Linked DNA regions of Homo sapiens. The protein of the gene in region 1 interacts with the protein of each later gene in a pairwise test. Each region holds a gene or a part of one and is shown in the gene's direction. Other genes may lie near its edges.

The links.
Region 2: the proteins of KAT7 (region 1) and CAAP1 interact in a two-hybrid assay, tested with the Homo sapiens proteins (one large-scale study listed by BioGRID and IntAct).
Region 3: the proteins of KAT7 (region 1) and KATNBL1 interact in a two-hybrid assay, tested with the Homo sapiens proteins (one large-scale study listed by BioGRID and IntAct).
Region 4: the proteins of KAT7 (region 1) and DYNC1I1 interact in a two-hybrid assay, tested with the Homo sapiens proteins (one large-scale study listed by BioGRID and IntAct).
Region 5: the proteins of KAT7 (region 1) and DDX11 interact in a two-hybrid assay, tested with the Homo sapiens proteins (one large-scale study listed by BioGRID and IntAct).
Region 6: the proteins of KAT7 (region 1) and RERE interact in a two-hybrid assay, tested with the Homo sapiens proteins (one large-scale study listed by IntAct).
Region 7: the proteins of KAT7 (region 1) and KCTD13 interact in a two-hybrid assay, tested with the Homo sapiens proteins (one large-scale study listed by BioGRID and IntAct).

Annotation. Positions count from the first base shown.
Region 1 is NC_000017.11:49,816,181-49,819,680, forward strand, and holds part of KAT7 (histone acetyltransferase KAT7), read left to right. Parts: intron 1-1,639; coding exon 1,640-1,831; intron 1,832-3,500. UniProt on the Homo sapiens protein: Catalytic subunit of histone acetyltransferase HBO1 complexes, which specifically mediate acetylation of histone H3 at 'Lys-14' (H3K14ac), thereby regulating various processes, such as gene transcription, protein ubiquitination, immune regulation, stem cell pluripotent and self-renewal maintenance and embryonic development.
Region 2 is NC_000009.12:26,840,180-26,844,643, reverse strand, and holds the end of CAAP1 (caspase activity and apoptosis inhibitor 1), read left to right. Parts: intron 1-1,996; coding exon 1,997-2,343; 3' UTR 2,344-3,959; downstream 3,960-4,464. UniProt on the Homo sapiens protein: Anti-apoptotic protein that modulates a caspase-10 dependent mitochondrial caspase-3/9 feedback amplification loop.
Region 3 is NC_000015.10:34,150,557-34,155,020, reverse strand, and holds part of KATNBL1 (KATNB1-like protein 1), read left to right. Parts: intron 1-336; coding exon 337-377; intron 378-1,951; coding exon 1,952-2,231; intron 2,232-4,464.
Region 4 is NC_000007.14:96,034,001-96,038,464, forward strand, and holds part of DYNC1I1 (cytoplasmic dynein 1 intermediate chain 1), read left to right. Parts: intron 1-1,618; coding exon 1,619-1,752; intron 1,753-4,464. UniProt on the Homo sapiens protein: Acts as one of several non-catalytic accessory components of the cytoplasmic dynein 1 complex that are thought to be involved in linking dynein to cargos and to adapter proteins that regulate dynein function.
Region 5 is NC_000012.12:31,100,969-31,105,432, forward strand, and holds the end of DDX11 (ATP-dependent DNA helicase DDX11), read left to right. Parts: intron 1-3; coding exon of another isoform or gene 4-58; coding exon 59-162; intron 163-864; coding exon 865-1,014; intron 1,015-1,274; coding exon 1,275-1,343; intron 1,344-1,458; coding exon 1,459-1,559; intron 1,560-1,967; coding exon 1,968-2,052; intron 2,053-2,348; coding exon 2,349-2,427; intron 2,428-2,608; coding exon 2,609-2,763; coding exon of another isoform or gene 2,764-2,838; coding exon 2,839-2,868; coding exon of another isoform or gene 2,869-3,065; 3' UTR 3,066-3,831; downstream 3,832-4,464. UniProt on the Homo sapiens protein: DNA-dependent ATPase and ATP-dependent DNA helicase that participates in various functions in genomic stability, including DNA replication, DNA repair and heterochromatin organization as well as in ribosomal RNA synthesis.
Region 6 is NC_000001.11:8,810,177-8,814,640, reverse strand, and holds part of RERE (arginine-glutamic acid dipeptide repeats protein), read left to right. Parts: intron 1-4,464. UniProt on the Homo sapiens protein: Plays a role as a transcriptional repressor during development. May play a role in the control of cell survival. Overexpression of RERE recruits BAX to the nucleus particularly to POD and triggers caspase-3 activation, leading to cell death.
Region 7 is NC_000016.10:29,918,763-29,923,226, reverse strand, and holds part of KCTD13 (BTB/POZ domain-containing adapter for CUL3-mediated RhoA degradation protein 1), read left to right. Parts: coding exon 1-37; coding exon of another isoform or gene 38-91; intron 92-1,265; coding exon of another isoform or gene 1,266-1,373; exon of another isoform or gene 1,374-3,696; intron 3,697-4,464. UniProt on the Homo sapiens protein: Substrate-specific adapter of a BCR (BTB-CUL3-RBX1) E3 ubiquitin-protein ligase complex required for synaptic transmission.

The DNA of each region.
Region 1 (3,500 bases):
AAACCATAGGCGCCCCTTTGTCTCAGCTGGGCAATTTGCAATTCTGAGAACCTGTAGCCTAGGAGAGACTCATCTCTGTTGTTTTCTTAATCCCAACAGGAACTCCCCTTTTGCTAGGTTTCCTCTGCACTAAGAATGAAAATAACAGTGAAGAGGAATAATGGAAAAGGCTGTTGTCAGATGTTTTAGAATTAATCTTTGACACAGCCAAGTTTGATACATTGGTTTTCCATTCTGATATTTATTTAGAGCTAGTTTATACTGAGTTGCTGTCCTAGGCAGAATTTTTAACAACTTTGCTTGAAGAAAATTCTGGTGATTGAGTTTACCTCTGATATAACAGATTAAATGTGTTCAGGGAAGCTCAGTTTTAAAGTGAATCTCGTCTTCACCCCCTTCCCCCTTGTATTAAAAAAAAATTGTATCAAATACTAGACTTGTTGAAAACTTGGCAGAGGCAGGGTTTGCTGGCTACCCTTGGCTGGGATGGGCTGTTACTGCTGCTGGTTTTCTCTATCCTATTCTGGCATGGAGCATTTCCTGGGCTAGCCTTTTACAACTTTACACCTGGTTATGCTTACAAATTATACTTTTGTAGCCAACTCAGAGCCACTGAATGGAGATGGATATCCGAATTTTTTTTTTTTCTGAGACAGGGTTTTGCCCTGTTGCCCAAACTGGAGTGCAGTGGTGCCATCATGGCTCACTGCAGCCTCGACCTTCAGTGCTCAAGCGATTCTCCCACGTCAGCCTCCTGAGTAGCTGGGACTACAGGCATGCCACTACACCCATCCCAGAAATATTTTCTGCCTTCTAGAGTTTAGATTCTAGAATTATCATGCACATTTCAAAAATATTTTTTAAAGGGCCTGTTTTTTTTTCTAAGTGACCATTGTGGATATATTTCACGGAGATTCATATAGCTTTATAAAAGCTTCTGCAGATAAGTAAGGCAGATTCTAAATCAAGTTTTTTGTTTAGTTTTAGAATACTTTATAAGGGTGGGGAGTTTGTATCTGTGATGATTTTCTTTATAATTCAGTTTGGTCTAGGCTGATAAAAATGAAGTTTCCAAGGTATCATTCTGGTGAGGCCCAGAATGTGGGAGGTAGCAGAGAAACCTCTCTTTTGAGACCTGTGCTCTGGGCAGTATGGGTAGTAAGTTTTCTGTACACCTGTGTGATTTTTCATGTAGCTCTCTTTAGTGTAAATTCTCATGGATAGAAGCCAAATCTGTCTGATTTTTTTCATAGCCTAGCGTGGTGGCATGCACACACACTTTTAAAAACAAAGATAATATTTATTTTTTTAAAAAGGAGTTTCGCTCTGTCTCCCAGGCTGGAGTGCAGTAGTGCGATCTCGGTTCACCGCAGCCTCTGCCTCTTGGGCGATTCTTCTGCCTTAGCCTCCCAAGTAGCTGGGATTACAATTGTTTGCCACCACACCTTGCTAATTGTTGTATTTTTAGTAGAGATGGGGTTTTGCCATTTCGGCCAGGCTGGTCTCGAACTCCTGGCCTTAAGTGACCTGCCTGCCTCAGCCTCCCAAAGTGTTGGGATTACAGGAGCCACTGTGCCCTGTCTAAAAGCAAAGATAATAAATTCTGATCCTCCTTTGACTTTTGATTTCTTGGCAATAGGAGAAGTTAAGGCTGCAAGGCCAAATCACAGAGGGAAGCAACATGATTAAAACAATTGCTTTTGGCCGCTATGAGCTTGATACCTGGTATCATTCTCCATATCCTGAAGAATATGCACGGCTGGGACGTCTCTATATGTGTGAATTCTGTTTAAAATATATGAAGAGCCAAACGATACTCCGCCGGCACATGGTGAGTTGTCTTGGGTTCCTCTGCCTTGACCATGATGGCAATAAGCTGTAGGATCTCTAGATTTTGCCATAGCGATGGCATCTGTTCAGGCACCTTCTCAGTGGTCCTCAGCAGTGGGATGAAGGCATAGGAAATGACAGGCCACAGCTTAAGGCGGGGTATAGAGCCTGAGGTATGGCTTGTGCTGGGTGCCACCCAAAGCAGCTGAGGGCCCTTACCCACATCCTGTCATGTACATCTTCTTGTCTTTTGTTCTTGCTGCCTACTGCTCTTCATTTCCTCCTTGGAATATGAATTACCTCTGCCCACAGGTTTTGTGTGTCCCAAACTAGATGAAAATACAGACTTCATTAGGCACAGCAGAGACAGCATGGCTCACCTTCATATCCCTAGCAACTAGTGTGGACAACTGATGCCCAAGAAGTATATGTTGAATGGGTACTTATTAATATTTAATAGTGATCAGCCTGTGACAGATTATGAAAGTAGCAGAGTGGGTCCTTTGGTGCCTTCCCCTCTTTTTCCTAATAAAACAGGTATAAGGAGTTGAATCTGTTATTGTTGACAAATAGGTTTACTAGATTTTTTGCAGCTTCAAAAAAAAAGCCATTTTTCCCCCGCTCTGTTACAGAATAAGCTTTGTCTTAAGGGGAATTTCTGCCATGGAGCAAGGGTGCGGAACAGGGGAAGGAGTAGAGATTAGCCTTTCAGGCAGAGAAGACTTTTTCTTGTTTTTTTTTTTTTTGAGAGGGAGTCTTGCTCTGTTGACCAGGCTGGAGTGCAGTGGCGCGATCTTGGCTCACTGCAACCTCCGCCTCCCAGATTCAAACGATTCTCCTGCCTCAGCCTCCTGAGTACCTGGGACTACAGTCGCACACCACCACACCTGGCTGATTTTTGTATTTTTAGTAGAGACAGGGTTTCACCATATTGACCAGGATGGTCTTGATCTCCTGACCTCATGATCCACCCACCTCAGCTTCCCAAAGTGCTGGGATTACAGGCATGAGCCACTGTGCCCAGCCCTTGTTCTCATAATCACAATATAATTTGGCTCTAAGGCCTCTGGGGTGTCTCTTTTTCCTTCCCCTTCCTTTTTTATTTCCCAGGATTTCCATATGTTGAGCATCTATGACCCAGGTTTCCTGTGATTTCTGTCATTATACTCTTCTCCCCAGTTTGGTTGGTGATAACTGCTTTTTTATGTTCCCAGTTCAGGAGCATGTGGTCTGTAAGTTCAGGGCCCAGAACTGTTGCTTTGACTCAGGTTCTCCAGACCCTGGCACACTTGACTGCATAGGGCTAGAGTCATGGAGGGGAGGTGATTGGCGGCGATTGGTAGAAATATCAGTGCACAGGAAATAATGGGGTCAGAAGGTGGGGCACTGATACAGATGGCAGGCCGTGGAGATAAAGTAAAATGGTTTTACTGTGTGAAAGCGGGTATTTTTATTGATGTGAACTGCTTACCATTTATGCCTTTTTTCCTTTTCGTTTCTGGTTGTTGAGTGACACAAACCAATGAAATAGCCAAAAGGGCAAGAAATAGTAATAGAAGGAGAAAACAAAGAGTCTGAATAAATCTGAGAATCAAATAAACATTCTGAATATTTGAAAATCTTCCATATTATATGATATAAAAATCAGATTTCAGGAAATACCTAATTTA
Region 2 (4,464 bases), on another chromosome or scaffold:
AAATTGAACCTGAGTCTGATCAAGCCTCTGAATCAACTACCGTTTACCTCTTCTCCACCCCCTCATTATATTATTCAGCTCTTCATTCATTATCTCGCAACAACCCCTAGTCTGAAAAACAAGTCACATTTTTCAAAAATTTGTATTTTAAAATATTTTATACAGCCTGTAGTTTCTTATTCAGAATCAGTGACTATACACTTTAAATTTTAGGTAAAGCCTCGGAGACACTAAAGTTAATTTTTTGAGGCTGTGAACAACTTAGCACTTATTTTCTTTTTTTTTTGAGACGGAGTTTCACCCTTATTGCCCAGGCTGGAGTGCAATGGCACGATCTTGGCTCACCACAACCTCCGCCTCCCAGGTTCAAGTGATTCTCTTGCCTCAGCCTCCCGAGTAGCTGGGATTACAGGCATGTGCCCCTACGCCTGGCCAATTTTGTATTTTTAGTAGAGATGGGATTTCTCCATGTTGGTCAGGCTGGTCTCAAACTCCTGACCCCAGGTGATCTGCCCACCTCAGCCTCCCAAAGTGCTGGGATTACAGGCATGAGCCACTGCACCTGGCCTTATTTTCTTAAATCTATTTTAGTCTCAAGTTAGAATACTTGTATAAAATATTGTTTCTTGAAAGGTTTTATTCAATTTTCTGTAGTTTTTTATGCTATTTGGAAATATTTGTTGCTTTGCGGACATATATAAAATGTTCTTTGCCATCAAATAAAATGATAATCTTATTTTTACAAGTTCTATTTATGGACACAAAAATAATTTTTTGTTTTATTTTCCACTTTAATTTTGGAATGGGGGTGGTTTTTCAATTATAAGCATGTAGGAGGATCACTGAAGGTCAGTAAATCATCATTGATTATAAAACCAATGGAGTATAATTGTTTATGTCCTTCCTGTACAGTCTGTTATCAGAATTTACCATCTGTCAATCTATGTTTTGTAAAGAAGCTTTCCCTACTGTAAGGAAAGCGCTATCAAAGCTTTCTTATATTAGGGAAAGCTAACATTTTGGGGATCATGACTTTTTAAAAAAAAAAACATATTCATGGGTGCAGCACACCAGCATGGCACATGTATACATATGTAACTAACCTGCACATTGTGCACATGTACCCTAAAACTTAAAGTATAATAATAAAATAAAAAGAAAAAAAAGAAAATGCAAGAAAAACACACAAAAAACATATTCAATATTTAAAAGATAAATTAATTAGGAATATAAGTGAGTATTCAAAGTTGCAAATGATGCCTGGAATTGAGTAGTATTCAATGCCAAGAACAAGGTGGTCGAGAACCATAATCTGTGTTTATTTATGTTGTTAGCATCAGTTATAGAAGTTTTATAACAAATGCATTTTTTAAAATTATGGTGAACTAACTTTGTTAATTAAAATCCTCGTCATTAAAACAAATTTTACCTTAGAAAATGGCCTTAGGCATTCTTCTTTAATTTATTGATTTGGAACAAAGTGTTTGAAAAAGCGTATGAAAAGATTGGGATAATTGCAATGCATATGTTGTCCTGCTTGCTGATGATACTTTTTCTTTTTTGTAGTTTATAAAGCAAAGTATTTAAACACCTTCTAGAATGAAATTTTACTGCTTGAATAGTAAGCCATACTGTATCCAGAGGATTTCCAATGTCAGCTTTCATTTTGTAGTGCAGAAGCTTTACTGTGATAAAAATGTTATGACATTTTAATTAGGAAAATAGATCATGGGTACTGCATATGATGGAAGAAATTTCTTAATGTTCCCATGTTCTACTAAATCAGAATGAAAAATACATTTGAATTTACATTACATTAGATCTGCTTTGAAGGTTGAGGAGTCAGGGGAAAAGAGGGTGGCATGGGGATTATGGAATGTGTTTGGGACTCCATAGTGGGAGGTGGGATCAAAGCAGTTTTTAAATTATAAACAGTAAGGAAATTGTGACCCATGGTATTTAGGTTACATGGATCTTTCTCCTTTTTTGGTTACAGGAAAAGGGGAAGATAGTGATGTACTCAGTATAAATGCAGATGCTTATGACAGCGACATAGAAGGCCCATGCAACGAAGAAGCAGCTGCTCCCGAGGCACCAGAAAATACAGTCCAAAGTGAAGCTGGTCAGATAGATGACCTGGAGAAAGACATTGAGAAAAGTGTGAATGAGATTCTAGGACTGGCAGAGTCTAGCCCAAACGAACCCAAAGCAGCCACCCTGGCTGTTCCTCCACCAGAAGATGTTCAACCTTCTGCACAGCAACTGGAGCTGCTAGAACTTGAGATGAGGGCAAGAGCGATTAAAGCCCTAATGAAAGCTGGTGATATAAAAAAGCCAGCCTAGGTATTTAACTTGATTTTGAATTTTAGGTATGTTTGAACAAAGCCACATCATTTAATTTTGTATCTAAAATTTATTTGGGGTCTTATATGTTATTTCTCATGTAACCCTTATTAGGACTCATTTTAGCCCTAAATTACCTGTGGCTGTTTCTTTTTATTTTTTTGACTACTTTTATATTATAAATGTGTGTTACTGTCTTATGAATTCATGGCAATATAGTTGGATAGCCTGGATACTTTGTTAGATGAGTATTTAGCTGTGTCTGCAAATCTTAAAAGCCATTAGCAAAGAGTCGTGGTATTTTTTTCTTTATTTTTAAATGTTTGGGCACCAAACCTAAAAGCAAAAGATTGACGAAGCATGTTTCTCTTAAGGCTACTTGTATTTTACAATACAATATTAAATTATTTAATTTGAGAAATTTAGTTTTGCTTATATGCACTTTTTAAATATATACTATTTTGAAGATTCCTTATGTAAATGCAAATTTCCTAGTTAAAACCGAATAACAGAGATCTGAAATGACTGAGAAAAACTTTTTTATTAAAGGAAGGAATTAATTTAAGGCAATTTTTAACTATGTAGAACTAATTGCCCATGTTTAATTATAGCAGACACGCCATTCTAACAGGTATTTGATACCATTGGATGCATTATTCTAGGTTTTTTCTTTAATAAAAATGGAACAAGTTTTCATTTACATTCCAAGCTGTCAGGAAATGAAGAATATTTTATTATCTAGGATTTTATCTGATGTAGTTGCTTAAAGATCTGATGTGCTATAATTCCATGAATCAGAAATAATAAAATGCTATCATTCTGGATCTGAAGACTTTTGATACTTTTTCAAAAGCAAAATTAATTTCAGGAACCTTTGATAAGTTGTTGTTATAATTAATCTAATTTTGTATAGTTTTTGTAAATAAATTACCATCCTTCCACAATTAGGGATGCTTTTATCCCCCCATCACTAATTGCAGTTGTTTGATACCAAAATAAATTTACGTAGAGATCCTTAACTTAAAATAAATTAATTTTTTCAAAAAACATAAATCTGGAACTGTTGTTTCTATATTTGATAACAAATACAGTATATTTTATTTATAAGCCATGGTCTACTGATACTGTATGAGGACTTTCCTTATATATAAAAGTTGCAGGGATTGTGTTTTATTAGCTGCTTTAATTATGTTAATTTTAGAGAGTTTTTAAATGGAAATAGAGGACATTTATGAAACGCTGGAATTGCAGTTACAAATTCTTTTTGTTGTTGTTGTTCCTGAACATGCCTTGGAATAATTCTACCATTTTTTCCCCCTCCATAAATCTTTCTAATAAAGCATAGAAAAAGCCTATATGATTTTAAATGCTTCTCTTAAGCTGGTAAACAGATTTGAGTTATGAGTTCATTGTTATTGCTTCAAGATGAAAAGACAGTGATATAATTTTTCTATTTCAACTTAAAAGTAATAGTTAATATGCTAAAGTAGTACAGAATAAACTTTATTGCTGCTTACTAACTACAAAATACTGTAGATGGCATCTGTATGATTAAACATATAAAGTAAAACAGGTCTGAGGGCTTTGTAGATGATTAAAGTCTCCACCTTCATGAAGCATTGTGTGTCTGTTCTACTCTATGCAGAATGGTTTACAGGACATTTGACTGGAGTGTATATGTGTGAGGTAGAATGAACAGAATAAATTAGAGGCTACTTAATTCCCTACCTTGGAAAATCAAATTTTTATCTTCTTTTAAAATGTTGAAAGACTTGAGAGCTTTTTGAAAATGAATGGCGTTAGAGAATGGGAATATTTGCTTTAGAAATGCCTAAGTAATGGGAAAATACCATGTATCGATCTGATGCTGCCATTTAAATAATCAGCCCAGAGGTATTTATTGAAGGCCTATAAGGTTCTCAGTCTTGTTCAAATCTTAAACCTAGAGGCCAGGTGCGGTGGCTCACGCCTGTAATCCCAGCACTGGAAGGCCGAGGCGGGTGGATCATGAGGTCAGGAGACAGACCATCCTGGCTAACATGGTGAAACCCCGTCTCTACTAAAAATACAAACAACTAATTAGCCAGGTGTGTTGGAGGGCACCTGTAGTCCCACCTACGC
Region 3 (4,464 bases), on another chromosome or scaffold:
TCCTTAGTCACCTGCACTGTAACCATCCTTCCTGCCTAAACTGCTCACCCCGCCACTCTGCCTCATACCCAGATAGCCTATCAGAATTAGTTTAGACTGTGCGGTCCAACCCTAGCCAATAGGGGAATGACACAGTAGTAGGGACTAGCTGCATTAGGGATAAGAACCCCTTCTCCTCCCATGCCCGGTATGCTCTTGCGACCACTCCAGGCACGATTGGCACCCTTCTGCAGAAGTAAATTGCCTTGCTGAGAAAGCTTTTTGCCGGAGTGCTGATTCTTCTTTGCGGCACCAAGCATTTGTTTCTAACATCAACTATCTACTTTCATTTTTCAGGTTAAGAAATCTCCAAAACAGTTGGCTGCTTACATAAATAGGTAAGAGTTTCTTTAAAGTTTGTGGGGAACAACAAATATGAAAGCTGGGTAAGGATGACAATAAGGGAAAAATAAGCATTCTTTTATCATAATAATAATTAACTTATTGTCAAACAGCTTCTTTATGCCAGTATCTGCACTAATAAACACATCAATATTGTCTCTGCTCCTTACAACAGTCCTACTCTATAGCCTACTCTATAGATAACATTAACCCTAACAGTTGATGAGAAAACTTAAGATCAGATAAGTTAAATGATTTGTTCAGAATCATATAGCTAGAAAAGTGGTAAGAATGACATTCATTCTCAGATCTGCCTAACTTCTAAAGGCACTTTCTACAAAACGACTGGTTTTCAAAGTGTGATTTGAGGACCTGCGGGTCCCTAAAGACCATTCATGGAATTTGTGAAGTCAGAATTACTTCCATAGCAATACTAAGACATTGACTGTCTTCATTTTCATTCTCTTGTTTGAGGGTACAATATAATTTTTCAAGAAGCTATATGCCATTTGATATCACAGTAGATTGAATGGAGAAGCAGAAATGAGAACCCAGCTGTCTTTTGTTAAACCAGATATTAGAGATATATAAAAATGTAAAACAGTACCATTCTTCTCACTTTTTAAAAAATTATTTTAGAAAATATGGGTTTTGGGTAAGATATTCCATGTTAATATGTAATTAGTCTTTTTTTGAATGAATTAACAAATGATTTAAATTTTGTTTTAGTTTTTACACAGTAAATATCAATAGATACTATTCACATAAAAATTATTTTGGCCATGGCTCACACCTGTATTCCCAGCACTTTAGGAGGCCAAGGTGGGTGGATCATGAGGTCAAGAGATCAAGATCATCCTTGCCAACAGGGTGAAACCCTGTCTCTACTAAAAATACAAAAGTTAGTTCAGCATGGTGGCGCGCGACTGTAGTCCCAGCTACTCAGGAGGCTGAGGCAAGAGAATCACTTGAACCTGGGAGGTGGAGGTTGCAGTGAGCTGAGATTGTGCCACTGCACACTAGCCTGGCAACAGAGAGAGACTGCATCTCAAAAAAAAAAAAAATTTTTGAGTCATTAATTATTTTTAAGAGAGCAAAGCATCGTGACACTAAAACGTTTGAGAACCACTGTATTAAACGATGAGGCTTGCTCTATCGTGTTCTTACTCAAATAAATCAATATACTTCAGCTTAATTAAATTTTAAAATATTCACACTTGCAGTCTTATTTGCCACTTTGTTAGAAAAAGATCAGGTTTCTAGAAAATGTTGTGGTCTTCTTACTCCCAGAATGGCCTTTAATATTTCATTTTTAAAAGCATTCTGGTTATTATGTCTGTCTTCATTTTTATTTGGCATAAAATGTCATCCTTTACATTGTCTTCCAGATAATTTGTAATTTCCCTTTTACTTTTCTCTTCAACTCAGAATTAAGATTTTTAAAATTCTATTTATTTCTAATTTTAGTGGATTACAATCACCAAATATAGCCTATTAATTCTCTGTTTAAAAACTTTTAAAGGATTTCATATGGTTCTTTTTCATTTAAGAAAATAAATTCTTTTTACAGAACAGTTGGACAAACTGTGAAAAGCCCAGATAAACTTCGTAAAGTGATCTATCGCAGAAAGAAAGTTCATCATCCCTTTCCAAATCCTTGTTACAGAAAAAAACAGTCCCCTGGAAGTGGGGGCTGTGACATGGCAAATAAAGAAAATGAACTGGCTTGTGCAGGCCACCTGCCTGAAAAATTACACCATGATAGTCGAACATATTTGGTTAACTCCAGTGATTCTGGTTCTTCACAGACAGAAAGCCCATCATCAAAATATAGTGGGTTTTTTTCTGAGGTAAGTCTTTTCTCTAACTCATATCTAGTTTAACTTTGTTCCTGTTATAATCTTGATTTTTTTCTTTGCCATATTCCACTAGCAGAATAATTTGTCACCTATTGAATGTAGACTTATTTGAGTCATAGTAACTCCCTGAGACAATTTTCTAGATTAACCAAATTTGAATTAATAATTTATTCCATTTCTCTAAGATGGGATGAAATGCTTAGCAGGCTGCTAAAACTATCCAGAATGACAAGTTAGCCAGTAGAGATTTAAAGGAAGGGAAAAGGAGAAATCTTGCCTAAAAAAGTGGAGCACTAGGCCGGACACAGTGGCTCACGCCTGGAGCCCGAGGTGGGTGGATCACGAGGTTAGGCGTTTGAGACCAGCCTGGCCAACATGGTGAAACCCTGCCTCTACTAAAAATACAAAAATTAGCCGGGCATGGTGGGGGGCGCCTGTAATCCCAGCTACTCAGAAGGAGGCTGAGACAGGAGAATCGCTTGAACCCGGGAGGCAGAAGTTGCAGTGAGTTGAGATCACACCATTGCACTCCAGCCTGGGCAACAGAGCGACTCCGTCTCAAAAAAATAAAAATAAAAAGGACAACATCTGCAGGCAGATCACCTGAGGTCGGGAGTTCGAGGCCAGCCTGGGCAACATGGTGAAACACCCTGTCTCTACAAAAGTACAAAAATGAGCCGGGCATGATGGTGGGTGCCTGTAATCCCAGCTGCTTGGGAGGCTGAGGCAGAAGAATCACTTGAACCTGGGAGGCAGAGGTTGCAGTGAGCCGCGATCATTCCATTGCACTCCAGCCTGGGCAAGAGAGCAAGACTCCATCTCAAAAAAAAAAAAAAAAGTGGACCACCGAAGCCAGTTATCCAGACACATTTTGCCGGGCTCTCAATATTGCCTGGTTAAAGCATAGTTCAGGCAAACCTGCTGTGGTTTGCTGCTCTTCTGGCTCAAGCAAAACTGGTTAACAGACTCAAAAGCGTTTTTGAGAGTGATAGAAATATTCTAAAACTGGGCCTGGCCAACATGGCGAAACCTCATCTCTACTAGAAATACAAAAATTAGCTAGGCATGGTGGCACACTTTGGGAGGCCAAGGCAGGTGGTCAGGAGTTCAAGACTCGCCTGGCCAACATGGCAAAACCCCATCTTTACCAAAAATACAAAAATTACCCAGGCGTGGTGGTGCACGCCTGTAATGCCAGCTACTTGGGAGGCTGACGCTCAAGAATTGCTTGAACCCGGGAGGCAAAGGTTGCAGTGAGCCAAGATCTTGTCACTGCACTCCAGCCTGGGTTACAGAGTGAGATTCTGTCTCAAAAAAAAAAAAAAAAAAAAAAAAAAAAAAAAAGTAGGCAAAGGACACAATAGACACTTTTCAAAAGAAGACATACATGTAGGTGACAAGCATATGAAAAAATGCTCAGCCTAAATGCTAAACCTAAAATCACTCATCATTAGAGAAATGCAAATCAAAACCACAACAGGATATCATCTCATACCAGTTAGAATGGCTATTATTAAAAAGTCAAAAAATAATAGATTCTGGCAAGGTTGTGGAAAAAGAACACTTATACAATGCTGGTGACAATGTAATTTAGTTTCAGCCATTGTGAAAGCAGTGCGACAATTTTTCAAAGAACTTAAAACAATCTTATTATTGGATATATACCCAAAGGAATATAAAACATGCTACCATAAAGACACATGTATGCGTATGTTCATCACAGCACTGTTCACAATAGCAAAGACAAGGAATCAATCGAAATGCCCATCAATGGTAAACTGGATAAAGAAAATATGGTGCATATACACCATGGAATACTATATGCAGCCATAAAAAGAACAAGATCATGTCATTTGCAATCACGAGTGAACCTGGAGGCCATTATCCTAAGCGAACTAATACAGGAACAGAAAACCAAATGCTTCATGTTCTCAGTTGGAGTGGGAGCTAAACACTGTGCTAGTGCATATGGACACAAAGATGGGAACAACAGACATGAGGCCTACCTTAGGGTAGAGGGTGAGAAGAGAGTTAGGATCAAAAAACTACTTATCAGTTACTATGCTTATTACCTGTGTGATGAAATAATCTGTACACCAAACCCCCACAACATGCAAACTACCTATATAACAAACCTGCACATGTGCCCCTGAACATAAAATAAGTTTGTTTTGTTTTGTGTTTTGAAACAGGGTCTCTCGCTCTATCACCCAGGCTGGGGTGC
Region 4 (4,464 bases), on another chromosome or scaffold:
CTTTGTCTCTTGAAAAAAATAATTATTATTATTATTATACACACACACATGCACACACACAAAAGGAAATATGGAAACTGTGAAGAACCAACCTCCTTTAAGCCTCCACAAAATACGGATGTAAAGAATACTACGTTTTTTTAAAATAATTTTAGGGAGAAAAAGGAGAGAGTGCTAATAAGCTGCTTACAATTGAAGTTCCACTATTTTCGCTGATCTTTAACATTATAGAGGGCTGGAGGGATTGGTATTTTATGGCTTTGTCTTAAAATTCTCAGCAATGTTTTGTTTTCTTTTAAAAGCCTGAAGATTATAAACAGACATAAGAGCAAGCCCACTATTTAGGAATTTTTAATTGCCCATTTTGCTCATTACACATATTTATTTAGGTTAAAACCAGTAATATGGTGGCTCTAAGTCCGTTTGTATTAGTTTTAGCATGCTCACAGACTCCTGTGTCTATACAAAGATGGAGGATTTCGTGACATGGCTTCCATGGATGGCAGGGAGGAATAGGGGCATCCAACAGTTGGCCTGGTCTTTCTCTCTCCCAAATGGGTAAAGGGACTTTTCCTTCCTTGCTGCTAATTTTAGTGATGAAGCAGATCATTGGATGATCCAGTTATCTGTATGACATAGTCACAGCATCCTCTCCTTTATCCCAGTTGCTGATGTGCACCCTATGTGTGGATATCACAAACTTTGAACACATCACAGGATCAGAATCAGTCTGTGTTGCTTAGACTGTTAGCTTGCACTTTCAATTTAATGGACTCCTTGGCTGAAATAGTTTATTTGCACAAGAAAGACTAAACTCTCAAGCAACTATAATGATATGATACCTCAGAATGATTTTTTAAAAATTATTTCAGATGCACAAAATAGGCTATTTGATGTAAATAGCCAGAAATACTCAGGGATATTAGTTATAATTGATTATTCTTTTCTGTCATTAAACTTAACTCAGCAGTATATCTTTTAAGATTAGGAATCTTTAATTCTCAATTTTAAAAAATCATATTATAAAATAAAGACTCCCATTTGCTATTTTAAAGACGTATTTAAATATTGTTCTTTTCAGGCTTATAGCCTATTCACCCAATGGCTGCCCTGCATGAAATCTAGTCCCTGTTGAAATCTGGTTTTTATGACCTGAGTGACAACTTTCTGGTTTTAGTCCATGGAGGACACATACTCCTGCTTTGACAAATTTGCTTAGTACATCTGATATTAATACATGTGTATTCTCACAAACAATTGATTTTGAAAATGTTTGTAAATACAAGGGTATTGTGTGTTTTATTAAAGCTTGGAGCTGACAAGTGTAACCATTATTATCTTTAGTTTCTGCACCATTAGTTTCAAAATTCTCACCTGTCATCTTTGCCTGACTTAAGAAGCAGCAGCACATGCTGATGAAATCCAGCCGGCTTGAAACCAGAGATCCACAGAAGCATGAATGTCAGGGGCAGTAAAGCATGGTTTCTGGCACAGCCGGGGTCTTTTGTAACGCTGTGTGAAAAGCAAACACATGATTTAGCCAAATGATTTTTCCGTGCTATCTTTGGCATGGCAAGGAGTTGACAGATGGAAATGTAACCACACCGTGTTTTGGTAGGAGAGCATGGAGCTGGTGTACAATAAGTCCAAGCCTGTCGCTGTTACCGGAATGGCTTTCCCAACGGGAGACGTCAATAACTTCGTGGTTGGCAGTGAGGAAGGTACAGTCTACACGGCTTGTCGTCATGGAAGGTGATTTTTCTGTTTCTTTACTGATGACATGTTCTTCATTTCCGAAAGTCTGTTATCACATTCTGGATTTTAACCACCTTGCATTATGAGAAAGCATCTCTGGAAAAATGGAAAGCACGACTTCAACTCTTCATTATCTTAAAGAGCTGCATCTGCTCTGGTCATTAGCTGTTCATAAGACTGTGGTGGTTCACACTGCCTTGAGGGAAAAAAGCTCGAGCTTCTGAGCCTATCATAACAGACCACTTGCACCTTCCCAGCATCTCCGCATACCTTCAGGGTCTAGCCATGTGCCCATCAGAGATAACAATCCCCAAATATTTCTTATCCCTCCATGCCTCAATGAGTTTGCATACTCAACTTCTTTTACCAGTTCTAGCATTTCTCCCTTTTTGGCCTGGTTAATTCCTCCTCATCATTCAAGAGCCAGCACAGAGATCATTCCATGTGAAACATTTTCTGACTCTTGGGCAAAGAAAACCACTCCCACCTTTAAGTCCCATAGAATTTTCAATTCTCTTATTCATTCACTCTTCCAAGGAATATTTACTAAGAACCTACCATGTGCCAGGCATCATCAAAAGGATACATTAAAGAACAAGACAGACCTAGAGTTCATATTCTAGTTGAGGGTAAAATACTAATAAGCAAATAAATATATAGTTTAGGATGGTAAGTGCAATGGAGAAAATTAAAGTAGAATAAGTGGGATAGGACTATAGGCTGTCAAGTTGACAATTTCATATATTTTCCTTATGCTTCTATAATAGCATTAATCGTATTTTAGTTTATTCATTCATCTGCCATTTTTCTCTTACTACATTATTTCCATTTCATCTTTGATTTCCTGCACAGTACCTAGGACATAGTAAGTGAGGAGCTAAAAATATATATTGGGGATAAAGAAATGATATATAATGTAATCCATCCAATCTAAAGAAGTGCCTTAAAAGCTTTCCTCCCAGTCAGATGGGTCAGAACAGAGTGAGTCACACAAACCACCATGCAGTTCCCAGGTGATAAGAACTCTACCTTAACTGAGAGATTCACAATGCCCCTGGAAAAGAGTTGTCAGTATAAAGTGGAATCCAATAGTTTGGACTAGATTGTAAAATTGCATGCAAAACTTAACAGGTGGCCTCATGTCTTTTGAAAGGGTCACTATGTTCACACTGGTGCTTAATTTGTCTTTTACTTTAGTAGTTCTTATTCCATTGATTTTTTTTCATCTCTTGCACTCATCCGAGGCTATTAAGATTTAATGAAGAACCACAAATTGTTCCAAGTTCATATCCCTGTGTTTTTGTGATTTGTAGAAATGACAAGCATCCATGGCTCAGCTATGTGACTTTTTCCATTCAAACTATACAAGCTGTTATGTTCCTGCTGTTCTGCACGTAGAAACAAGCAGTATTTGTCCCCTCACATGATTCAAAGATGACTTAGGAAGATATGCCTCACAGTCCATTCCCAATGATCCTCCTTCATAAACCCTGGCTAAAACCACACATTAAAGCTTTATCAAAGCATAAAAATATTTGATAAAGTTATTCATTCATAAATATATTTGTTGTATGCCTACTTTGAGCAAAGTGCATTGTTAGGTTCTGCAAGGCCTGCAGACGTCATGTAAACCTGGTTTCTCTCTTCAAAATAACTGATGACGGTGAGAAAGATAAATACACAAATATCTGGAACATGAGTAGAATGTCTTAAGTGGCATGAGAGGCATAGAGAGTATAGTAGGCCAGACCTGGAGTCACAGCTTTATCTATATGCGTATTAGAATCAACATGGCATAGGTTCAGTTAACTTAACCCATGGTTTTACCTAGGTCCTTGATTATCTACGAAGGCTATAGAATACATTCATTGATAATTTCCAGATTTTTTTCATTGCTATAAAGTGAATAACATTTTACATGATGAACATTCTTGTTCTGTGGCTACTGTACTTTCTAAGCACTATCAGAATATGCACTTTGGTTCAAAAGAAGGGTCCCTATGGCACACACCACAAATCTTTTTACAACAAGCTGAATTTTGCTTTACATTGGTCCATCCATCTGAAATATAAAATACAGACCTTAGTAACATTGTAACGTAGCAGGCATTGGCTTTGTAGTCATTCTAAATGGGTCATATAGGTCTATGGGGGAGAAGCAGGGGATTGCTATTTTTCACCTAACATAGAGAAGGTGCAAATCCACTTCCATAAATTAAACAAGGTCCTCATTTTGCACCCTATAAATCCTTTCAGGATGCTGTTAAGAGCAAGTGGAGTCTCACCAGGGGCCACTTCAAAGATCAGTTCCTCGGGTTCATTAGAACAAATTTAAATGATCATGTGTGGAACTGCTCTTAGCAGTTTCACTGGGCATAATTTTTGAGTGCCTGTTACATGGAACACGCACTGCCACACTTTGCTCATGATTCCAAATTTTGCTAAGCACATTGACATTTATTGGTGCTCCAGAGGCCCAAATGTTTTAATAACTGAGCTCGTTTTTATTCTTAGTGACATAATATTAGGATTCTACAATTCCTACATATTTGTCATATTTATAACCTCATGCACATGAATATTTTAAATATAGCATTTTTGGTATGTTTTCTCACATCTTCCTAATTGTATATGATTGCATGCAGAATACTATGTGATAATAGAGGGCTGCAAATAATAACAGCTTAGTTAAATAAGCAAGATATGTCT
Region 5 (4,464 bases), on another chromosome or scaffold:
CAGTGTCTTGCAGCACACCTGCATCTCCAGTTTTCGGCCCCTCCCTGGCTCTTACCAGGTCACGTGATCCCTCCAGACAACATCCTGCCCCTCGTCATCTGCAGCGGGATCTCCAACCAGCCGCTGGAATTCACGTTCCAGAAAAGAGAGCTGCCTCAGATGGTCAGTCCCAGCCAGCTCGCCGCACCACAGCCTGGCCTCAGGCAGCAAAGGGTTTTCTGGGGCAGGGGCGCTCTGGCCCACCCTGAGTGTTTTCAGTGTTGGGGAAATTGCACAGGGACACCCGCTTAGAGCCACACAGAATGAGCGGCGTCGATCTAGATGCTTATGGAGGAAGGTCTGAGCTTCCCCGCCCCTCACGCCTTAGGCTGCGAAATATGTATTCATAAAACCTCCAGGCATCCTCTGAGGACGCCTCACACAGGAGAAAGCTGCTAGTTCCCTTTGGCTCTCTTGCCCTTTGGTTATATCTGCCCCTGCCGGGGGTAGGGATGTGGGGCTTGGGGGCATCTCCTGTGGTGTGCCTGGGGTGTGCAGCCCCTGATTGTCGTTGTGGTGCCCATCAGGACCCTGGACAGAAGAAGGGAGGACTCAGTGCCAGGGCAATAGGGAGGCCCCCTAGGGACGCTAGTGCTGTGACATGTGTCAGAAAGGCGCAGTCAGCAGCAGCGGCTGGGTGTGTTTGGTGGGAGGTGGCACCTACCACCCCGTGGTTCCCACCCAGGGGAGCCAAGTCCTCTTCCTTGGCTGTAGTCCTGCCGAGGGTCTCTCCTCAGTTTTGAGTCTCAAGGTGAAGACGCGGTTTGTGGGTGGCTGAGGGGTTGCTCCATGGGGGCTCCCTCCCTCCCTCCTTTCCTTCCTTAGATGGACGAGGTGGGTCGCATTCTCTGTAACCTGTGCGGTGTGGTTCCTGGAGGGGTGGTCTGTTTCTTCCCCTCCTACGAGTACCTGCGCCAGGTCCATGCCCACTGGGAGAAGGGTGGCCTGCTGGGCCGTCTGGCTGCCAGGAAGAAGGTGAGTGGCCTGTCGGCAGCCTTCCCACTTGTGAGGACAGTGCCACTGAGTCCTCCTGGGAGCTCTCGTGCTCATCGGGTCAGGACAGGCTTCTGGCTCCTCATCCCCACCGCTCCCAGTCCCTGACTACAGAGGATTTCCCCCAAAGTCCCTGGCTGTGAGGTTCTCCAGTCCCCTGGCCAGAAAACACAAGGCCACGAGCAGACTCGAGACCTGGCACCCTGAACCTGTCTCTGGGAAATGTCCTCTGTCTTTCTCAGATATTCCAGGAACCTAAGAGCGCACACCAGGTGGAGCAGGTGCTGCTGGCATATTCCAGGTGCATCCAGGTGCGGGCGTCATGCTGGGCTTGGGTCTGAGATCGTGTGGGGGTGGCAGCTGGAAACGTTGTGGGTGTCATCCAAGTTTTGGCTCAGCAACTCAGCGTCTGGGTTTCTCCTACAGGCCTGTGGCCAGGAGAGAGGCCAGGTGACAGGGGCCCTGCTCCTCTCTGTGGTTGGAGGAAAGATGAGTGAAGGGATCAACTTCTCTGACAACCTAGGCCGGTAAGTAGTGGTTCTGCTCGTCTCCTGGGCCGTGATACATGGCCGGCCCTCACTCCCAGCAGCTGGGCCCCTGCCTGCTCTCTGCTGCCATTAGAGCCCACAGCTGGGCTGCGACTGCTCAGACCAGCCAGCTGGAGGGAGGGGCTCAGCAGCTCTGGGTTTGGTCCTGGGAGAGCAGTTGGATTTTAGGCTACCCATTGCTGTATCAGGACCCAGTCAATTGGCCTAGACGGGATCTCTCAGCCGAACAAGCCCTCTCCAGGTGGTAGGTACAGAGTGGAGAGAGGCTGAGTTTTGATCACAGTCGGAGAGGCTGAGGGAAGGGGTAGAACGGAGCAGCTGGTGACGTGGGTGATGACCCGGGAGGTCCTGACGTCCACCTGCTGGGCTCTTGTCTCCCCCGCCCAGGTGTGTGGTGATGGTGGGCATGCCCTTCCCCAACATCAGGTCTGCAGAGCTGCAGGAGAAGATGGCCTACTTGGATCAAACCCTCGTGAGTGACCCCAGTGTCACAGAGGGTGACAGGAGAGTAGGCAGTGGGTGGGAGTGGCATCACCCCCAGGGCTGATACAGCCAGGCCTTCCCCGCTGCGCTGGCGTCTCCTGCCCCCTCCGGAAGCTTGGATGCCCCTCCACACCCTCTTGATCTTCCCTGTGATGTCACCTGGACCCCTGCTGCTGGCATTGGCCACGAAGCCTCCTGGTCTGGCTCCAAAGCCTGGCAGGGTCTTTTCCCAGGGGGAGCTGCAGGCAGGGAACAGTCCTGATGGGTCTTCCCCTTCACTCCCAGCCCAGAGCCCCCGGCCAGGCACCCCCAGGGAAGGCTCTGGTGGAGAACCTGTGCATGAAGGCCGTCAACCAGTCCATAGGTGAGCCTGGCTGCCTCCAGCTGGGTGGACAGATGGGGGCTGGAGAAAGGGAGAACAGGAAAGAGGGGTTGCCTGCCCTGTTTCCTATATAAGTCTGAGGAAGGGGAGGGGGTCGCCGTGGGAATGTGCTGTAGGGGGGAGGCAGGTGTTGCTCGGAGCCCCAGCCTCTGTTCCTATGCAGGCAGGGCCATCAGGCACCAGAAGGATTTTGCCAGCGTAGTGCTCCTGGACCAGCGATATGCCCGGCCCCCTGTCCTGGCCAAGCTGCCGGCCTGGATCCGAGCCCGTGTGGAGGTCAAAGCTACCTTTGGCCCCGCCATTGCTGCTGTGCAGAAGGTCAGTCCTACCTTTTTCTTTCTGAGAGCCTCCCCACCCCGAGATCACATTTCTCACTGCCTTCTGTCTGCCCAGTTTCACCGGGAGAAGTCGGCCTCTTCCTGATGGGCAACCACACCACTGCCTGGCGCCGTGCCCTTCCTTTGTCCTGCCCGCTGGAGACAGTGTTTGTCGTGGGCGTGGTCTGCGGGGATCCTGTTACAAAGGTGAAACCCAGGAGGAGAGTGTGGAGTCCAGAGTGCTGCCAGGACCCAGGCACAGGCGTTAGCTCCCGTAGGAGAAAATGGGGGAATCCTGAATGAACAGTGGGTCCTGGCTGTCCTTGGGGCGTTCCAGGGCAGCTCCCCTCCTGGAATAGAATCTTTCTTTCCATCCTGCATGGCTGAGAGCCAGGCTTCCTTCCTGGTCTCCGCAGGAGGCTGTGGCAGCTGTGGCATCCACTGTGGCATCTCCGTCCTGCCCACCTTCTTAAGAGGCGAGATGGAGCAGGCCCATCTGCCTCTGCCCTTTCTAGCCAAGGTTATAGCTGCCCTGGACTGCTCACTCTCTGGTCTCAATTTAAAATGATCCATGGCCACAGGGCTCCTGCCCAGGGGCTTGTCACCTTCCCCTCCTCCTTCCTGAGTCACTCCTTCAGTAGAAGGCCCTGCTCCCTATCCTGTCCCACAGCCCTGCCTGGATTTGTATCCTTGGCTTCGTGCCAGTTCCTCCAAGTCTATGGCACCTCCCTCCCTCTCAACCACTTGAGCAAACTCCAAGACACCTTCTACCCCAACACCAGCAATTATGCCAAGGGCCGTTAGGCTCTCAACATGACTATAGAGACCCCGTGTCATCACGGAGACCTTTGTTCCTGTGGGAAAATATCCCTCCCACCTGCAACAGCTGCCCCTGCTGACTGCGCCTGTCTTCTCCCTCTGACCCCAGAGAAAGGGGCTGTGGTCAGCTGGGATCTTCTGCCACCATCAGGGACAAACGGGGGCAGGAGGAAAGTCACTGATGCCCAGATGTTTGCATCCTGCACAGCTATAGGTCCTTAAATAAAAGTGTGCTGTTGGTTTCTGCTGAGTTTTTTATTGATATGTGCTGCTGTTTTCTCTGGAAGCCTCTTTAGGGAATCGAGGAGCGCACTGGTGCAGGGGCTGGGTGGAGCCATCCTCCGATGGAGCACAGGCAGACGGAAGCCCCCACCCCAGCTGCGTGGCCTCAAGCCAGCCTCCCGCTCCCCGAAGGTGGTCTCCACACAGACCTGGGACAGTTTCATCCCCGCCCCTTCCAGGGCAGCAGGGCTGAGGATCCCATTCTGGCTGTGTCCACGTCCGGGCCATGGCTAGAGTCTGGGTTTAGGGGAGGAAGGCATGGCGGCGCCCGCTAGGATTTCCAGTTGTCCTCTTCTTCCTCTGCCTGTGGCTGCTGGGGGTTAGCAGAGACGGTTTGTTGTCTGACATACGGGCTCTCTCCTCCCGGCCCCTCACCAGCCCCAGAGGTGAAAAGGCTGGAGGGGAAAGGGTGAGTGAGGGAGGTCTGTGGGGAGCACTGGTTTCCCCAGGCCCCAGAGACTTAAACACAGGAAGAAAAAGGCAAGAGAGAATTAACGATGCCACAGCCCATGGCAGACAGCGGCCCTGCCTCCTACCCTTGCGTCTCAGGACCAGCTTGTTGAAGAGATCCCACATCAGTTCCCTGCCTTGGCTTACGGCT
Region 6 (4,464 bases), on another chromosome or scaffold:
TTTTCTTGGGATTTAAACCAGGTAGAGGGGTAGAGGAGGAGTTGAAGGAGGGAAATCTCACTAAAATCGGCAATTTTGCAAATGTAGTGGCCTTGCATTGCAGTAGTGTTGTTTTCAGTAGTCTTATAAAGTCTGATAGGGTGACTTATTGTATGGATTAGATAAAGAATTTAAAATTGGAAGCCAGAGAAAATGTGAAATGAGTGTGTACACAAATTATCATAGAAGAGGGTCAAATTGTTGCCCAAAGGCTTGTAAACTAAGGTGCAGTTTCAGAGATAATCTGCTTAATAAATGTCTCAAAGGATTTTTATTTTCACAAATCCTGGCCCATCTCAGTTGTTCTAATGTAATGAACTATTAGAGAGGTTTGCAGTGGTAAAGGGGACTGGGTGTGTAGGATAAACATCTGTTCCAGACTGACTGCTTCTAGGAATGTGACTTCTGATTCACTTTACTTTCAAAACTTCAAGAGTAATCTCTAAAGTTGTGTATCTTTTACAATGAAATGTGAACAGTTCAAATGTATTATTTTCTCAGTGGGAATGGATTCAGGGGATTTCAGTTCAATATATTCTCCATCAGTGTTTTGTCACAAGGAAACTAGAACTGAGAACCAATTCACAACAAAAAGGTAATCCAAATCAAGAAATAAAATGTACCAGTTACCTTTTCAACTTTGATTTACTGGTCAGTCGAAAAAGCTTTTAAAAAATAGGACAGTAAGGCCTAGTGCGGTGGCTCACGCCTGTAATCCCAGCACTTTGGGAGGCCAAGGCGAGTGGACCACTTGAGGTCAGGAGTTCGAGACCAGCCTGGCCAACATGGTGAAACCTCGTCTCTACTAAAAATACAAAAATTAGCCTGGCACTTTGGCGCGTGGCTGTAATCCCAGCTACTTGGGGGGCTGAGGCACGATAATTGCTTGAACTCAGAGGCAGAGGTTGCAGGGAGCTGAGATTGGCACCACTGTACTCCATCCTGGGTGACACAGCGAGACTCTGTCTAAAAAAAAAAAAAAAAAAAGGAAAAAATAGGATAGTAAACACTGTCAGGTCCTGCAATAATTATGTGTAATACTGAACAGATACTGAACAGAAATGTTCCAGGTGCTGTAAAAACACACATATAAGAATATAATCTGTGCCCTTCTAAAAACCTGTATATGCTGAATATTATCATGGATTTAGTAAGCATTCATTACTTAAAAATTAGTTTCAAATATCAGTGATCAAAAAAAATTTAAGTAGTAAAATAAGTTGGACATACCAAGTTCTTTTGAGAGTAGTATGCTTTCCTACTAAGCTACTTTTGGCAGCTACTTTTGCAGTCGATTTAAAGGTTAAGATAGCAGAAAATTCAAATGTTTAAGTGAGTCATTAGTGTAACCTAGCTGTGAACTTCGTTACACACACATACACACATCCTGAAAGAAAAGCTATTGTTTTACATAATCAGTTTCTGATAATGCTGTGCTCTAGTTAATTACGGGATTTCTTTTTTTACTACCAGGAATTCCTCTTGAATGATATTTAAGTGATTGTTGAATCATATTTGTGTGATTGGTATCCTGATAATTATTCTGAAGTTGAAGCTCTCCTTGTCCTATTTAAGTGTGATTTTGCCGAGCCTTTTGGCTTATGTTTGGTTTCTTGTCTAACAGAGTTATAGTTTGTGTGTGTGTGTGTTTTTTTTTTAAATAATGGAGGAGAAATGAGCATTTTAAATATGTGTTAGAACATTGTTAAGATTGCATAGGCCAATTTAATGAACATTTGAACACAACTCAAGTTCAAATACTAAATATATTTACTAGCTTCAAGTTTGGGTTGGAATTGTGATTTGTATAGCTAACTTGTTGGTGTGCCAAGTAATATAAGATGTACTGTGTGTCTGTACATTAGGTAACTAGGTCAGAGAGTACAGTTAATATAAGATGCTTTTTTTGGTAAAGTGGTCTGTGCCAGTGTAAAATTATTATTATTATTATTTTTCGAGATGGAGTCTTGCTCTGTCACCCAGGCTGGAGTGCGATGGCACGATCTCGGCTCACTGCAACTTTGCTTCCCAGGTTCAAGCGATTTTCCTGCCTCAGTCTCCCGAGTAGCTGGGATTACAGACATGTGCCACCACACCTGGCTAATTTTTGTATTTTTAGAAGAGACAGGGTTTTACCATGTTGGCCAGGCTGGTCTTGAACTCCTAACCTCAAGTGATCCACCTGCCTTGGCTTCCTAAAGGGCCGGGATTACAGGCGTGAGCCACTGCACACGGCATATTTTTAACTGGTAAAATTTGCCAGTATGTCAGCAAGTGTGAGCAATATATTTAACTGTGAAAATTTTCCTTATATGGTTAGTTATAAAATGATGTGGCCTCTAATTCATAAACCACTCGGTATTTGAGGAATCCTCATACCCTATTTGTCTTGGGTATTTGCATCAGAAGTCGAAGCCATGGGTTTTATCTTAATTTTAAAGTAGTTATATACATGACTTTTAAGGACTTTGGTTAGGCTGTTTTTCATTGCAAGGAACAGAAAGTCTTCCGAGTCATCTCAAGTTGGGGAAAAGTAGAACAGAAATTTAAGCCGTACGAGCCAGGCCTCACCTAAGAACAAAAACCCCAGGTCTGCAGTGCCTCATACATACTGGAATACTGTCAGGGATATGGGTCCCACCCAGCTTTAGCGACCAGATACCTTGTTGCCTCCTCAGCAGGAGGAGTTTGTGGCGCCTTACCCTAGTGCCATGGCCCTGTATATGAATGTCCAGGCTGTGTGTTGCAATAAATATACCACCCCAAAGGGGACAATATTAATGTGGTTGGCCTGGACTAACCTTAAAAGAGAGCTTGTGAGGAAGCATGGCTGTGCAGCATCTTCAGACAGTCCTGCAGCAGCAGGGCAGAGCTCCTCCTACAAAAACCCATTCTAGCTCACGCAGCCATGCACACACTTAGCAGAGCATGCACGGACACATTCATTGGCACCTGTATATGTTCCCTAGGCTCCCAGAAGTCTGATTCTTTTTTGAGAGAGGGTCTCGCTCTGTTGTTCAGGCTGGAGTGCAGTGGCATGAGCATAGCTCACTGCAGCCTTGAACTCCTGGGCTCAAGTTATCCTCCCTCCTTGGCCTCCCGAGTAGCTGGGACTGGGACTAGAGGTGTGTACCACTACACCTGGCTAATTTTTTTTTGTAGAAATCAAGTCTTGTCATGTTGCCCAGGTTGGTCTTGAAGTCCTAGGCTCAAGTGATCCTCCTACCTTGGCCACCCAAAGTCCTAGGATTACAGGTGTGAGCCACCATGCCCAGCCAAAGGTCTGATTCTTGACCTTCTTCCTGCTTCTGGGGTGGGAAGCAAGGGAGTACAGTGATGAAGGCACTCAGTGTGTGTGGGGTGAATACAGTTCAGGGGGAGTGTGAGCAGATGAGCATGTGGGCATATGTCTGTCTGTGTGAACTGCCTGGGGAGGCACTGGAAATGTTCTCTGGCAGGACCTGGCTATGCTGGGGAAGTATATCCACACAAGTGGATTCTAGGCGTGAGCCACTGCGCCTGGCGGCTATTGTTGATTTTGATAGCTTATTCTAACACCTTATTTTCCTTCAAGAGACTTCATAGTCATAACTCGTAGTCAGTTATGATCCTTTTTTTAGGTGGTATCACTTTATTACATTTGTCTTATTCTCCTTTTATTTTCTGTGACTCTGCCCGCCTACTGACTACCTGTCTACCTACCTGCCTACCCAAGTCAGTGTTTCCCGAACTGTATTTATGGCTTCCTAATATGCTGCAAGTATTTTAAGTGTGGGGTGAAATACGTTTATAATGCACATGAGCTCTTTAAAGCCTCAGAAACATTTTATACTATAGAGGGTTTTTGTTTTTCATTTTCCTCCCTTACCCCAAAGAATACCTGTTTCTTTCTCATGAGATACTCATGGGATAGATACTACTATTCTAGTTTAATAGAACACAGTTTGAGATGCACCTGTAAAATTAATTTTTTTTAATTTAAATTTAAATTTTTTGAGGAAAGGTCTTGCTCTGTCATCCAGGTTGGAGTGCAGTGGCGCAATCTCTGCTCACTGCAGCCTTGACCCCCTCGGGCTCAAATGATCCTCCTGCCTCAGCCACCTGAGTAGCTGGGACCATAGGCATGCACCATCACACCTAGCTAATTTTTGTATTTTTTATAGAGACAGAGTTTTGCCATGTTGCCCAGGCTGGTCTTGAACTTCTCAGCTGAAGTGATCTACCCACCTTGGTATCCCAAAGTGTTGGGATTACAGGCATGAGCCACTATGTCTGGATTTATTTTATTTAAAAATAACTTTAGGCCAGGCGCGGTGGCTCATGCCTGTAATCCCAGCACTTTGGGAGGCCAAGGCGGATGGGTGACCTGAGGTCAGGAATTCAAGACCAGCCTGGCAAACATGGTGAAACTTTGTCTCTACAAAA
Region 7 (4,464 bases), on another chromosome or scaffold:
GCAGGGCCTGATTGAGGACTGCCAGCTGGCGCTGCAGGTGAGGGCCTTCGGAGTCCCCATGCCTATGTTCCTGGGAGAGCTGCCCAAGCAGGTATTAGAGCAGAAAAAAGGAGATATGGGGTATGGCTTGGAGAGCCTGGCTTTGGCTGGCCATAACCCCAGAGAATTTGAGGTGCCATCTTCTGCATCCCTGCCGCCTCAGGCAGCACCCCCACCCCAGCCTCATGCCAGGACCTTTGCAATGGTTAAATAGCTGCTCTCTACTTCCCACTGTTCCTATGCAGCCAGTCCAGCTGTTACACTCGCACCTGAGTAATTATCTTTCAGCACAACCCCGATCTATTCTCTCTCTTGCTTAGAAATCCTAAATAGCTCCCTCATGTCACTAGGGAAAAACATCTAAATTTAAATTGAAATATAATAACCTCTGCGATCTGGCCCTATCCTGGGAGGCAGCATTCTCCCATGGCTTCCGCCCCCCAGGAGCTTTCTAATTCTTTTTTTTTTTTAAACAGTGAAATTCTTTATTCAAATGAAATCTCACAGAAGCAGGGCCACTCCCAGTAAAACAGGGTTGGGGATTCTAGAGACCCCACCTGCTAGGCTCCACTTTTGTGGACCCCTTAGGGTTCTGAGGAGCAGAGCTTGGAAAGTGAAGCCAGGACATAAGGGTTCTGTGTCACCTCTGTCACAGCTGACTCAGTGACCTTCAGTGAGTCCATTCCTACCTCTGGGATTCTGTCCTCGGGTTCCGAAAGACAGGGAAGGGAGAAAAATAAGTACAAAGTAGTGAGTTTTACATAAAGCCTGTTATTCTGTTCTATTTTTACAATGTTAAAAATGTCCTTTCTTTTATGTTACAATAGTAAGAGAAGATTATAAAAGTTTCTTTTTGAATGCCCTTTATAGATTAAAAGGTTGCCTCCCTGAACAACTTTTGTCTCAGGGAATACTTACTGGTTCTTGAAGCCCAAAGGTGTAGAACTCCTTTGGACAATATCCATGTTTTTCAAACTTTTTGATTGCCTGCCATAGGGAAAAAATGCATTTTAGTACTCATTATATATAACTGAAATAACAGTTCTATAAAAAGATACTTTTAGTGAAATGTACTCTGATAATCTTTCTTTTTAATGCTGTTTGGGACCCATTACTTATTTCATGACCCATTAATAAATTACCACTTGCATTTGAGAAACATTCATTGTACTAGATCTTGGAAGTGCATTCCTGCTCTGTAGCATTTTTGTTTTGTTTTGAGACAGAGTCTCTCTGTCGCCCAGGCTGGAGTGCAATGGCGTGATCTTGGCTCACCGCAACCTCTGCCTCCCAGGTTCAAGCAATTCTCCTGCCTCAGCCTCCCAAGTAGCTAGAATTACAGGCGCCTGCTACCACGCTTTGCTACTTTTTTGTATTTTTAGTAGAGACGGGGTTTCACCATGTTTGTTAGGCTGGTGTCGAACTCCTGACCTCACGTGATCCATCCGCCTTGGCCCCCCAAAGTGCTGGGATTACAGGCGTGAGCCACCGGCCTGTAGTTTTAAATTTACTAATGTTAAAACTAAAGTTTTAAAACCCGGCCTGTAGTTTTAAATTTACTAATGTCATCATGTACCCACTGTGTGTCAGGAGCAATTCTGCTATCTGCTTGTGTATACATCTTGTATCCTTGTTTGACGTAAAAAGAAACGCGAGGGAGCTTGGAAGACGTGTCCAAGGTGAAAGAGCTGGGAAGCAGCAGAGCTCAGATTTGACCCCAGGCTACCTGACTATCTGACCTTCAGCCTCCCAAGAGCTGTACTTTTCTATACTCCTGCTCTCTCCTTTCCAGGTTCCCTCTGCACCTCACGCAGCTCAGCACACTCCTCAGTGTGTGGCACTTCATCAATATTGGTCTATGCAAACCTTTTGTCTTTTAGTTTTATTTCTTTCCCTTCATTCCCAGTCCCCTGCCTACTTTCCTTTTTCCCAGGGGCACCCATCCAATTTTAATGTTTTGATACATATGCTCGAAAAGCTAAAGCATTGTTCTGCATATGTGTGCATTTTAAATGTCCATAAATGGCATTGAAGCTGTGAATCAGTTTCTGTTGCATTGTGTTTTTTTAATTCAGCACTTTTTTTCAAGATCTATTCATGCTGCTCCAAGTACATCTAGTTCTTTGCTTCTAACAGCTGCAGAGAAATCTGCGGTGTTCATTCACCATATTTTGTTCATACATTCCCCTGAGGTTGGAGACCTAGATTGCCTTCCAGTTCCTGCCCCTACAAACCGTGTCACCATGAGCATCCTGGTACATGCTCCCTTCTGATTCTGTGCCAGTCTCCTGTCATTGTAGCTGGGAGTAGAATTGCTGGATAACAGGACACCTGCAAACGGCGTTTTAGTAAATATCATCTAATTGCTCTCCCGAATGGTTATAATACTTTATCCTCATAATGAGCAGTGCATAAGAGATTACATTTCTGCATGTCCTCATCAAGACATGGCATCATCCAGCTTTCTAATTTTGCCAATCCAATGAGTGTAGCGTGATCTCATTTTCATTTGCATGCCTCTGATTACTAATGAGGTTCAGCATCTTTTCATATACTCACTAGTGTTTTTTTGTTTCCCTTCCTGTGAATTGCTTATTCATGTTCTTTACCAGATTTTCTGCTTTTTTCTTTTTCATGTTGCTTAGCAGGAGATCCTTGCATATTTTAGTTTAGTTCCTAGGGATAATTAAGCCCTACTGCATATGGGTATGTCTTATACATTCCCTAGGGCATGGATTATATACATAACAAATTAACCTCTAAGCCTGTAGCATGGGACTATTTACCTACTGTTCTCAGCAAAGTTCAGAAAACACTCAAATTATTTGCTGTTTTTTTGTTTTTGTTTTTGTTTTTCTTTTTTTGAGGTGGAGTCTTGCTCTGTCGCCCAGGGTGGAGTGCAGTGGCGCGATCTTACCTCACTGCAACCTCCCTCTCTGGGGTTCAAGTGATTCTCCTGCCTCAGCTTTCCGGGTAGCTGGGACTACATGTGTGCACTACAATGCCTGGCTAATTTTATCATATTTTTGGTAGAGATGGAGTTTCGCCATGTTGGCCAGGCTGGTCTCGAACTCCTGACCTCAAGTGATCCACCTGCCTTGGCCTCCCAAAGTGCTGGGATTCAGGCGTGAGCCACCGTGCCTGGCCATATTTGCTGGTTTTTGAGATTCAGATGAGGAACTTCAGTTGAAAAAGTCTGTTCTAGATAAAAATTTCTAGTCAATGTAGATATCGCCAATATTTTTTCTTAGAATGTCACCCACTTGTGGCATCTAGCATTGAATGGAAATCCTTGATTTTTTAAAATTACAAATAACCATTGATTATTTTAAAGCAGTATTTATTAATTGTAGAAATTTCAGAAACACAAATAATCTAAAAAATAAAAGCACCAAATATTCTTCCAGGTCGTTTCCTGTGTGAGAGTATGTGTGTGTGTGTGTGTTTGCTTGCCAAAATACAATCGTGTTGTATGAAATGTTTTATAATCTGTTTTTTGTTGTTGTTAATAATTGCCATCTTTACATGTCAATAAATTTTTATTTAATATCCAGTCCAGGGCATACTCCGGTTTCTCCAGTTGTTCCAGAAATGTGTTTTTACAGCTGGTTCATCAAACCAGGGTCCAGTCTAGATCTTCACGTTGCATCTGGTTATCTGCAAGTTAACAATGGAAAGCATGACTTTACAAATAGTTTCATGTAATAATGTTGAAGAGATGATAAGAGTTATAGGTATTCTATGGCACGAATGTAATTACTGGTTCAGGTAAGGATTATCATTGATAGGTAACTGCCTTAATACAGTTACCATAATAATACCATAAGCATTACTTTATTACATAAGCCAAATAATACCATAAGCATTACTTTATTACATAAGCCAAATAATACCATAAGCATTACTTTATTACAATCCAAGGGGTCCCTTTTTCCTCACGATGCTGGCTTGTTAAAGAGACTGCCAGTTGTCCTGCACAATGACCCGCTTTCCAACTTTGCCTGGTTGTTTACTCCCGGTATCGTTTGGTTTATTACCCAGCCTTATCCTTAATTTCCTGTAAACCAGACTGTAGATTTTAAATGACTGATATTGGGTGGGCACGGTGGCTCACGCCTATAATCCCAGCACTTTGGGAGGCCAAGGCAGGTGGATCACTTGAGGTCAGGAGTTTGAGACCAGCCTGGTCAGCATGGTGAAACCCCATCTCTATTAAAAATACAAAAATTATGCCAGGTGCGGTGGCTCATGCCTGTAATCCCAGCACTTTGGGAGGCTGAGGCAGGTGGATCACAAGGTCAGGAGTTCAAGACCAGCCTGGCCAACATGGTGAAACCCTGTATCTACTAAAAATACAAAAAAATTAGCCAGGCCTGGTGGTGGGCATCTGTAATCCCAGCTACTCAGGAGGCTGAGGCAGGAGAA